Regions from separate parts of the Homo sapiens genome. Here region 2 is linked to region 1. The links come from fine-mapping of genetic effects on gene expression. A gene starts in region 1. The other region holds a variant in brackets. All regions are shown on one strand. Distances are from middle to middle.

The links. PIP is the estimated chance that this variant, and not a neighbour inherited with it, causes the effect. A credible set is the group of variants that fine-mapping cannot tell apart.
Region 2: its variant is the best candidate, but not a certain one, in a credible set for the expression of XPC in atrial appendage (GTEx, PIP 0.68).

Annotation. Positions count from the first base shown.
Region 1 is chr3:14,175,968-14,181,337 of GRCh38, forward strand. It overlaps XPC (XPC complex subunit, DNA damage recognition and repair factor), which reads right to left and starts at 2,634. Exons shown (of 16, transcript NM_004628.5): 1 at 2,499-2,634. The coding sequence starts at 2,601. LSM3 (LSM3 homolog, U6 small nuclear RNA and mRNA degradation associated) reads left to right here and starts at 2,850. Exons shown (of 4, transcript NM_014463.3): 1 at 2,850-2,914. The coding sequence starts at 2,894. RefSeq lists a silencer at 2,274-2,393 and enhancers at 2,444-2,793, 2,894-2,943.
Region 2 is chr3:14,132,401-14,137,770 of GRCh38, forward strand. It overlaps TMEM43 (transmembrane protein 43), which reads left to right. Exons shown (of 12, transcript NM_024334.3): 5 at 146-195; 6 at 466-535; 7 at 1,339-1,409; 8 at 2,370-2,491; 9 at 2,758-2,832; 10 at 3,407-3,508. Among named protein-coding and RNA genes, the nearest start is that of TMEM43, 10 kb to the left of the region's middle. The variant T/C (reference allele first, on the strand shown) is at 3,294.

The sequences.
Region 1 (5,370 bases):
TCCGTTTAGGCTGAATGACACCAGCTAGCCCAACTAATTTACCTAACATGGGTAAAGCTAAAGCTCTTGGCTTTATATGCTATCCCACTGAAAACTCACAGCCACCCCGCAAGGCAGTTATTACATTTCACAGAGGAAATTCAGAAGGGCTAAAACATTTGTCCAAAATAATTCACCCAAGTGCATAAAACTAAGAATTGAAGCTCTACCAAGCTGGAACCGAGGTGAAGTGTTGAGCTGGGAAGAATACAGGTAGCATTTCCATCAGATTAAAACCGTAAATTTTTAATTGCCATATATCCAAATTACATTCTGACTAGAATACCGGCCCCTTTTTGTGACCCCTTGCTAAAATACCAACCATCCTTTAAATCACAGATCAAACTACTTCAGAGAGCGTTCCCCGATCACGCCAGTCAAACTTGATTAATCCTTTGGAAGCTACAAAGCCTTGTACCTTCTTCCACAATATTTAGCACACTTTGCCTTGAATGTTTTACATGTAAATGTCATGTCAACACTACTCTATGATCCTCCAAGATATGTTTATCTCTCATGTCACCTCATTCATGTACAGCACATAGTAGATACTCAAAAGATGTTATTTGAATGAGTAAATGAGTGAATAAAATGGAACTCGTAATATTACATATGAGGTAAATCACCTCCTAAGTTTACGAATTATTACCATTTCACTATTTCCTAATGGATGATGAATTTATAACCGGTATAGAAACAGAATCTAGTGTGATAGCCTTTGCCGGTTACCTAGTCTAATCTACCCAGTTTTTTCAGGAGACCCAGAAATTCCTTCTACAGCCTGCATTTTGCAATTATTTAAAATATTTACTAGCCGGGCGCAGTGGCTCATGCCTGTAATCCCAACACTTCGGGAGGCCGAGGCAAACGGATCACCTGAGGTCAGGAGTTTGAGACCAGCCTGGCCAACATGGCGAAACCCCATCTATACAAAAATACAAAAATTAGCCGGACATGGTGTCAGGCACCTGTAACACCAGCTACTCGGGAGGCTGAGGCAGGAGAATCACTTGAACCTAGGAGGCGGAGGTCACGCCACTGCACTCCAGCCTCAGCGACAGAGTGAGACACTGTCTCGAAAAAAATAAAAAATAAATAAAATATTTATTTAGCATTTAGCCCTACCAATCCACGGGCCCTGCATCCACAGATTCAACCAACCACAGATGAATATATTTCGGGAAAAAAAATACAAATTTAAAAAATACAGCATGACAACTATTTCCATAGTATCCACATTGTATTAGGTATTATTAGTGATCTAGAGATGATTTAAAGTATGTCGGAGGATGTGCATAGGTTACATGGAAACACTAGGCCATTTGATATAAGGTACTTGAGCATCACAGGTTTTAGTATCCGCGGGGTATCTGGGAAGGACCACCTTAGTTTGCTCAAGGAATGTCTAACTTGAGTTTTGAAGAAATAGAAAAAATCAGCCCTGGTAAAAGCCATGGGGGGTTCACTCTAGGCAGAAGGAACATCAAAGGAAAAGACTCAAGGAATAACTTGGCATATTTGAGGAAGAGAAAGGAGGCCAATAAGGAGGGTATCTGGCAAGGAAACAAGTGGTAAGAGAAACAGGAGAGGTAGCAAGAGCCAAAACATGTAGTATCTTGTAGGCCAGGATAAAACAACTGGATTTTAAGCTAAGAGCAATGGAAAACCAAGGGGAGTTTAAAGCAGGAGCAGGGCATGATTTTTTTTTTTTTTAAGATTATTTGGGTTGCTGGATGCAGAGCTGGGAGGCCAGTAAAGAGGAAACTGCAGTCACTCAACTGAAAGGTGATGATGACTTGGACAGGGGCTGTGGTCATGGAAATGAAGAGAAGTGGACAAATTTGAAATACACTCTTGAGGCTGAACTGACTGGACTTGCTGACGGACTGGATGTGTGGACATAAGAAAAAGGTGGGCTTTGCTTTATAACAAGTATTGAGACTGGAAAAACGGAGGAAAGCATAGATTTAAAGAGGAAAACCATGAGTTCTGCATTGCCCATGACAAATGTAAGAAGCCTATCAAATATCCATGAGGGGAAGTCAGGTGGGATCCCACTGTGGAACTCTGGGTGAGACTCAGCTGAAGTTATCATTCGGGAGTCAGCACACTGCATCACTCTACGTCCTGGTCCGTCCGTCTGTCTTCCTGGGACACAAATAACTGCCTTCTCCGAGTTCAACCCTGAACATCTGTATCCTCTGGACAACGGGGAGCGGGAAAAAAGCTACGCAGGAGCTTGGATCGGGCGAAGCTCGCGGGAAACCGCTCTGGGTGCGCAGGACAAAGACGCGGGGACAGCGGGGAGGGCCGGCCGCAGCCTGCCGGGCTGCCCCCACGGCGCGGAACGCGCGCAGCAACCTCCACCAGGCCTCCGCGTCTGGACTCCCGCCCTGCCTCTGGGCCTCCTCCGCCCACCGGCGGCGTCTCCCGCGAAGCCCGCTGGGCCTCGCTCTCACCCTCCTCCTCCTCCTCACGCCGGGCCTTGCTCTTGGCCTTGGATTTCTGGCTGCGCAGTTCGCGTCCCCGCGGCTCCCCGCCGGCCGCGCGTTTCCGAGCCATGTTGCTTGTCTGGGCAAATTCCACTTCGCGAGTGACGCACCCGGCCGCGATGCGCTAGAACGCCGGCCCCGCCCCGAGGCGGTGCGCTTGGCCACGCCCCTTCGTTGGAGGCCTAGTCACGCCCCTAAAGGAAGCTCCACCCCATACCCGTGGCCACTAAAAAACTGCGGGAAGCAGGAAAGAGCACAACAGGTTTCTCTCTATTTCCGGTGTATTGTATCCTCACGTTTCCGGAGATTGACGTTGCTCTTGTGTTCTCGCGAGAGGCGGGAAAGGGCGCAGGGTTTGAAACATGGCGGACGACGTAGACCAGGTAAGTGTATTTTAAGGAGGTCGCTCGAAGGAGCTTCTTGTACTAGGCTGCTTTTTCCAGACTCAGGAAAAATGGCCAGTCGTGCCTCCTCTCTCCAAGTCACCATGGCCTAATCCACCCTGTCCTTTCCGTAACCCCCCCTCCGAATTTTGCCGTAGGCCCTGAGACCTTTTCCTGTTAGAAGCCCACCTGATGACTATTCTCACACTCTTCGCTTCATTTTTTTAAATCTGTAGATTATTATCCTTAGCTACCTCATGGAGCTGTCAGGATTCCAATAGAAAGCCAGGTAATAAAGTTAGGAGTTGTTATCATTAGTGAGCGCAACAATTATTTATTCATTCAGCAGATAGAGTGAACATCAGCTTTGTATGGTTAGGCACTGTTCTAAGGGCCAGGGACACTGACATCGACATATAAGAGATCCTTGCCATTACTTGGAGCTTATATTTGCGAGGAGAACAGATAAAAGTAAATATAAATATGTAAGACTTCCAGGAACTGTGATGTGCTGTGAAGGAAACAAGGAACTGGTATGCAGAATAACAGATGGTCCTAGAAGCTTTTTCACCTGGTCTTTTTCTTCCTCAAATATCTTTGGAGATCATGCCACAACTTAAACTTTCTACTGAAATCTGACCTCCTCAGAGAGGACTTCTGCCCAAATAGCACTCCCGCTACTCTGGTTACCCTGCCTCATTTTTCTTCATAGAGAGTTATTTTTTCATATTAAATGTATGCATCTTTGTTTAATGTGAATCTCTCCCCACTAGAATGTAAATGCCATAAGAGCAGGGATTTTGTTTTGTTCATTCTTTTGTCTTTGGGGTTTAGAACAGTGCTGGAAACACTCAAAAAATATTTGAGTGAATGAGTTAGATGATCAGAGGAAGCCTCTTTGAGAAGCCAATATTTAAAGCTACAGGATGAAAAGAGCAGACAGTGGGCATCCCAGACAGAGGCTTAGGTAGCAGTAGGGCTTTTTCATGTGCATATTCTTACAGTATTATAATTATTTGTATGCCTCTCCACAGTAGAATGAGCTCCTTGAGGGTGGGGATTGTGACTTCTCTATCATTGTAATCTAACAGTTGGTTATCTGATCCTTTAACAAACACTTGTTGAACTGAGGGACATAGGGACCAGTTGAGTTAGGTTATTTTTTTCTCTCATCAGGCCTTTTGAATCTTCAGAGCCTGTTACCAATTCAGTTACCTTCCTCCACTGGCCTTGTGTACTTACTGAAGAAGCTCTCCTTGAATAATCTTTCTAACTCTTAGCGGCTGCAACCATCCCTTCCATGTGGGTGACCCCAAGTCATCCTAGCCCTGACCTCTAAAACCAATGTTTCCAGCAGTTCTGTAATAATATAATATTAATAGGAATCTTTTCTTTTCCTTTTTTTTTCTATTCTTTTCTTTTTTTTGGATGGAGTCTCACTCTATCGCCCAGGCTGGAGTGCAGTGGCGTGATCTCAGCTCACTGCAACCTCTGCCTCCTGGGTTCAAGTGATTCTCCTGTCTCAGCCTCCCAAGTAGCTGGGACTACAGGTGCGTGCCGCCACACCTGGCTAATTTTTGTATTTTTCGTAGAGATGGGGTTTCACCATGTTGGCCAGGCTGGTCTCAAACTCCTAACCTCAGGTGATCTGCCTTTCTCAGCCGCCCAAAGTGCTGGGATTCAAGCGTGAGCCACCACGCCCGGCCAATAGGAACCATTTCTAAATATTAATATTTTCTGTTTTCCTGGCACTGTTTTTAAATGCATTAACTAGTTTAATCCTCATAAGAACCCAGAAAGAAGGTTGTGGCTTTCTCAATTACAAATGAAGAATCTGAGAATTACAGATGGCATGATTTTTAATCTCAGTTCATAAATGTCAGGTCACAGCCAGGAGTTGAACCCGGACTGCCTGACTCCAAAGCCAGTGCTTGCTTGCCTTTTTTTTTTTTTTTTTTTTTTTTTTTTTTTTTTTTAAAAAAAAAAAAGACAAGAGTCTCACTCTGTTGCCCAAGCTGGAGTGCAGTGGCACGATCTTGGCTCACTGCAACCTCCACCTCGCCAGGCTCAAGCAATCCTCCCACCTCAGCCCTTGGAGTAGCTGGGACTACAGGCATGTGCCACCATGCCCGGCTAAGCCAGTGCTTTCAACCAGTGTTCTATACTGGCTACTAAATATATTTATCTTATTCACCAGTTGGCAGCCTAAACTCAACCTGTGCTGAATTCATAATCTTCCCATAAACCTACACCTCTATTTGGCATTCTGACTAGTGTATGGTAGGCATTAAGTGAGTGTTTTTCCAATGATTACATAATATTTGAGATAAAGCTAAAGTCCCTGAGACCCTATGCCCTGAAATTGGGTCAGGCAGTTTGGATTTTGAGGGAACAAAGTATAGTCATGATTATTTTGCTGTGTAACTTCTCATGTATGTGTGTTTTAACCTACATTT
Region 2 (5,370 bases), 44 kb before region 1:
CTTGGGGCTGGTGTAGAGAAGGCATCTGCCGTATCTGGGGAGTCTGATCTGGTAGCCCTGAGGTTGCTTCCTGCTCAGATGCTTAGAGATTAGACTGCCTGGGGCGACGAGGCTAACCCCCGTGGCTGCTTTGCTTTCCCTGCAGGGAGTACACCGAGGATGGGCAGGTGAAGAAGGAGACGAGGTATTCCTACAGTGAGTGCTGGGCCCCTTACGTGGTCTCTGCCCATGGTGGGGGCCCACAGTGGTGGCTGGACAGCAGGGCTGTTGGTGGGGCCATGGGAAGGATTCAGCACCAGGCATCAGGATCCCTGGGTGCAAGTCTTCAGAGCCCTGCTTTCCCACCCATCCATTGAGGCTCCCTGACCCACCCCTTTGGCTGTGAGATAGGAGGAGCTGGGCTGGTGGGTCTCAGCCGCGTGCCACTCCTACCCGGGCTCTGAGTTGATTCCTCTCCCTGAGCAGACACTGAATGGAGGTCAGAAATCATCAACAGCAAAAACTTCGACCGAGAGATTGGCCACAAAAACCCCAGGTGAGAGCCAGGCCCAAGGCCTGAGTGCAGCTTTGTCTACACTGGCAGGTCTCCAGCCTCAGTTTCTTCATCTGAATAACAGGATTGAGTTAATCCTGCCTCGTGGGTTGAAAATGTGGGACATGGGTTTGAGACCAAGCCCTGTGCTGGGCACCAGGAACACAGAGACTTGTCTCCCCTGACCCCAGACAAGCTCCCCGCAAACAAGTCACAAATATAAGGCCTGCACTAAGCGTCTAAGGGGATTTGCACACACGGGGCCGGGGAAGCATTTTGTTAATGGTTTGCCATGGGTGGGAGGACAATCAGGACAGGCTTTCCAGAGGCAGCGGCATTTGTTCAGGCTTCTCAGGATTTCAGCAGAGGGAGGTTAGCTCCACGGCATGCCAGTGGTGAGGCGGGCATAACACTTGGGTGTGGCTAGAGAGCAGGCCTTGTTCAGCAATGGTCTGGGCTGTGCCAGTAAGATGGTTGGGATGGAATGCTCTGGGAGGGGCTAGTGAGGGGTGTAAAGTCCATGCAAGATACATCTGACAGCAGTGGGTGGGGCAGGACAGGCTGGCAGGGGTCTAGGCAAGAGGGTAGGAAGCTCCGGGGAACAGGAGACAGAGTGAGGGTGCTCAGCCCAGGGGAGGGGGCACAGGGCCCCTGGGGGTGGACAGGACAAGATGTCTGCTGCGCCTGGGCTAATCTGGACTTGCAGGAACCCCCGGGTGGGGACCCTGCCCAGCACAAACAACCCAAAGGGACCCGGGCAGCTCCCACACCGGTGCCCATCTCTGACAGCTTCCTCTCTCCCACAGTGCCATGGCAGTGGAGTCATTCATGGCAACAGCCCCCTTTGTCCAAATTGGCAGGTTTTTCCTCTCGTCAGGTAAGTCTCAGGCCTCTCCAGAGGAGCTCGTGCCAGAAGCACAAGGCCCCCCTAGGGCCGGAGCTCCCAGTACTCAGCCTTCAGAGGGCTAAAGGCACAGGATCAGTCTGCACCTTTCCCAGCACCATGCTTTGGGGGCCAGGGGAAGGCGAATCCCCAGGAAGCAAGGGCTGACGTAGAAACCCCCACCCCACTCCATCCTACCAGGTTCCTCTGAAATCTGGGTTGTTCCAGAGAATGACTCAGGCATGCATCCTCACCCTGCTGCGTGCCGGTGTCTGCTGAGTAGACTCTGCTGAGACAGTCCTTCCTCAAGCAGACTCCGGCTAGTAGTAGACATGTGGTGGCTCAGTGCTCTCAGCCTAGGGCTCCCCCTCTCTGAGTTCCACCTGTCCCAGGAAGGCACTAGCTTATCACAGGCATCCCCCATTGACTCCAAAGAGAAGCTTGCAAGGGATAAGGTGGCACCATGGGCCAGAGTAACCCTGGGGCTCTGTTCCTGGGCCTGACCCATGAAGGTGGGAGAGGATACCAAGGGCCCAGATAGTCCTGGGGAGGCTGGATGATCCTGGGCCTGGCCTGGCCGCTTTCTGTGTGCTTTGTTGCTGGATGGTGCCTGTGTGCCAGCTGGGCCTGCCCTCAAGTAGCTCTCAACCCAGGAGGTGAGTCAGGCTTGGACGTGGATGGCCGTAACCTTGATGGAAGGGAAAAGGGCTAAGGCCACTCCCAGTGCTGTGGTCACTCTGACTTGGTGGGAGAGGGCACAGGGAAAGCTTCCTGGAGGAGATGGTCTAACCCAGGGGAAGCCGTGGACGAGACAGAGTCAGAAAGAGGCACTGCAGGTGGGAGTGCCACGTGTGCAGGCTCCAGGGGTGCAGTGGAAGGGGGTCAGGCCAGGGACTTTGCAGATTGAGGTTTTCACCTGGTCCCCTGGGTTTCTAACCACTCTGGTCCCCTCAGGCCTCATCGACAAAGTCGACAACTTCAAGTCCCTGAGCCTATCCAAGCTGGAGGACCCTCATGTGGACATCATTCGCCGTGGAGACTTTTTCTACCACAGCGAAAATCCCAAGTATCCAGAGGTGTGCGGAGAGGCCTGGGCTCTCCAAATAGGAGGGTCAGGGCGCTAGGATCAGGTTCCTGCGCCAGGCAGATTCAGTTCAGTCGCATGCACAGCTGCACTTGGCCAAGTGCAGCTGAGTGGGAGAGGCCCTCTGGGTGACGGCACAGCCTGGGCACGGGTGTGGAGGTGGGAGAAGAGCCTGAGGGGCGTAGCCGAGGCATCCTGGACCTGGGCCTGGGCCAGCTACTCCGTTCCTCACTCTCCCTGCTTCTCTTCCACCCCCAGGTGGGAGACTTGCGTGTCTCCTTTTCCTATGCTGGACTGAGCGGCGATGACCCTGACCTGGGCCCAGCTCACGTGGTAACCTGGCTTCCCAGGGGCAGACACTAAGTCAGAGCCTCACGACTTTCCTGGACACAGACACCTTGGTCAATGTCAGGAGCGCTTGGACCCCCTTTTCCCTGGGGAAAGGCACACTCTCGCACACACTCTCAGCCAGGCACGCTTCTGAGCAGTTTCAGAGCTCCCATGTCCCCACAGCCATCCATGGACCCCACGTTAAGAAGGGCAGCTCAAAAGGGGTCTCATAGTCGCACCTTATGACAGGTGTTCCAGTCACACACAGACCCTCTCCCCAAGCCCGTTTTGATCTGTCAATAATTGGTCTTGCGTTCCTGGCCTATGTGCAGTCCTGCCCCATCCCCTGCTCTGCGCACTGCCCAAGAGCTTTGAATGCCTGGAGCTTTGAATGGAGCAGCTCAGCCAGAGCTGCAGAGGTGGATGCATCCCAGATGGATGTATAGAGAGAGAAGCCCCAGGGT[T/C]TCTGTGCTCACTTCCCCAGCCGGCACCCAGTCCCGGGAGGGTGGGCCATGGCTCTCGTGGGCGTGTCTCCCGCTGGTCACCCCTCAGCTCTAACACCAGGTCCTCTGACCAGGTCACTGTGATTGCCCGGCAGCGGGGTGACCAGCTAGTCCCATTCTCCACCAAGTCTGGGGATACCTTACTGCTCCTGCACCACGGGGACTTCTCAGCAGAGGTGAGTGCTGTGCCCTACTCGTACGGTGGAGGAACAAGCATGTCCTTCCTTCCTTCCAGTGGTTATTTAATAAGATCACACTACCAGGGGTCATAGCCAGTGAATGAGGCAAGAAGAAGAAATAGCGGAATGTTGAGTATGCCTCATCAAAGTGTTTGACCAGGAGTGTTTCAGATTCCAGATTTTTTTGGATTTGCAGGTATTTGTATATACATAATGAGATCTCTTGGGGATGAGAACCAAGTCTAAACACAGAATCTATTTATGTTTCATGTATACTTTGTACACATCGCCTGAAGGTGATTTTATACAATGCAACCCGTCACATGGGGTCAAGTGTGGGATTTCCACTAGTGGCGTCATGTTGGCATTCAGAAAGTTTTGGATTTTGGAGCACTTCAGCATTTGGGTTTTTGGATTGTGGATGCTGAGTCTGTCATGAACCCTCAGTGTGCAGGACTGTGCTAGGCACTAAACTCACTGTGCCTCACAGACTGTCCGGTAGAGGAGTGAGAGTGACAGAAACTCGTAAGTACTGATGCATCGTGCCGAGTGTTGGAAAGAGGAGAACAGGTGCTCTGATACCAGTGGACGTCAGAGTAGAACATCCGTTTCTGCAGTGATCAAGCAGGGCCTCTGACAAGTGAGTTTTGCTGACGAGAAGGGGTTAACCCTAGAAGAATCAGTGATCAGTCAGTTCCAGCAAGAACAGCCCAGTCTGGGCACGAAAGGGTTCACCTTCTAAGGGGGCACCCGGAGTGCTGTGGCCACAGCCCAGAGCGGGGAGAGGGAGTGGGTGGGGGGGCTCCACCAAAGTCTGTGTCCTTCCAGAACATTAGGAGGGCGGGGAAGGGTTTTGGGCCTCAGCTACCTGAGTATCCCTCTCCCATTGTAAATAGGGAGGGCTATGCCTACCCCGGGTCCCAAGGAGAAGGGGTGCCAAGATGTGCTGATTAGTTCAGTTCTGTGCCTTAAAAGTTAGCCTGTCTTCTCTAGGCAGGCAATCCTTCTCTGCAGCAGAAGAATTGAGTCTTTAGTTTTTCTGTTGTTGATGAACACAGGTATCCCTGGTGGGGCACTCTATACCTGCCCTAACCAGGACTGCTGGGGTTTTCATTCCAGAGTGGCCAGAAAGGGTCAAGGCAGCAGACAGGCATCAGGGGTTAGCTGTGACCTTTTGTTCCTATTATTAGATCCTCAGCAGCCATCTGTCCCATTAGCCTCCAGCTTGTGGTGGTGCTTGGGCCTCACCAACTCCTGGTACCTGGCCAGGGCTAGGGTGTGGTCAGGCTGTTGCCCAGGAGCCCAGTTACCAACCTCAGGGTAGGGCTGCCACCTCCCAGCCTAGAAGGCCATGAGTCACCCTTCCACCAGCAGCTGAGGGTCCCCAGCGAGTTTCTAAAATTAGGAGGCCCAGTCCAGGCCTTGCTCTCTCTCCCAGGGCTGAGGCCCAGCTCACGCAGCCGCCCCTCCAGAGAGGAGTGGATGGGGCCCATGGCTTAGGTAATGCCCCAGAAAGGAAGGCCCTGCAGTGCAGATGCTCAGGCGGCCTCCTTACCCCCTGGGTCTCCTGCTGCTTAGCAGCCCCAAAGCCCTGTCTTCCCCCAGCCCAGCCCCCACCCCCACACAAGGTCTGGGGTCTCTGCCAAGTAGAAAAAAGGCCCAGAGCCAGGCAGGCAGCTCAGGGCAAAAGTCAGGATGCCCCGATTCCAGTCCCAGGGGCAGGAGAGTACAGCTGCCCAAGCAGGCACACTGCAGACGGCCCTGGCACTGCCTCCCACCTGCTACAGGACCTTGAGCTGGTGCTGATCTCTCAGCCTGTTTCCTCATTTGTGAAGGGGAAGATGTTTAAGTACTATTAG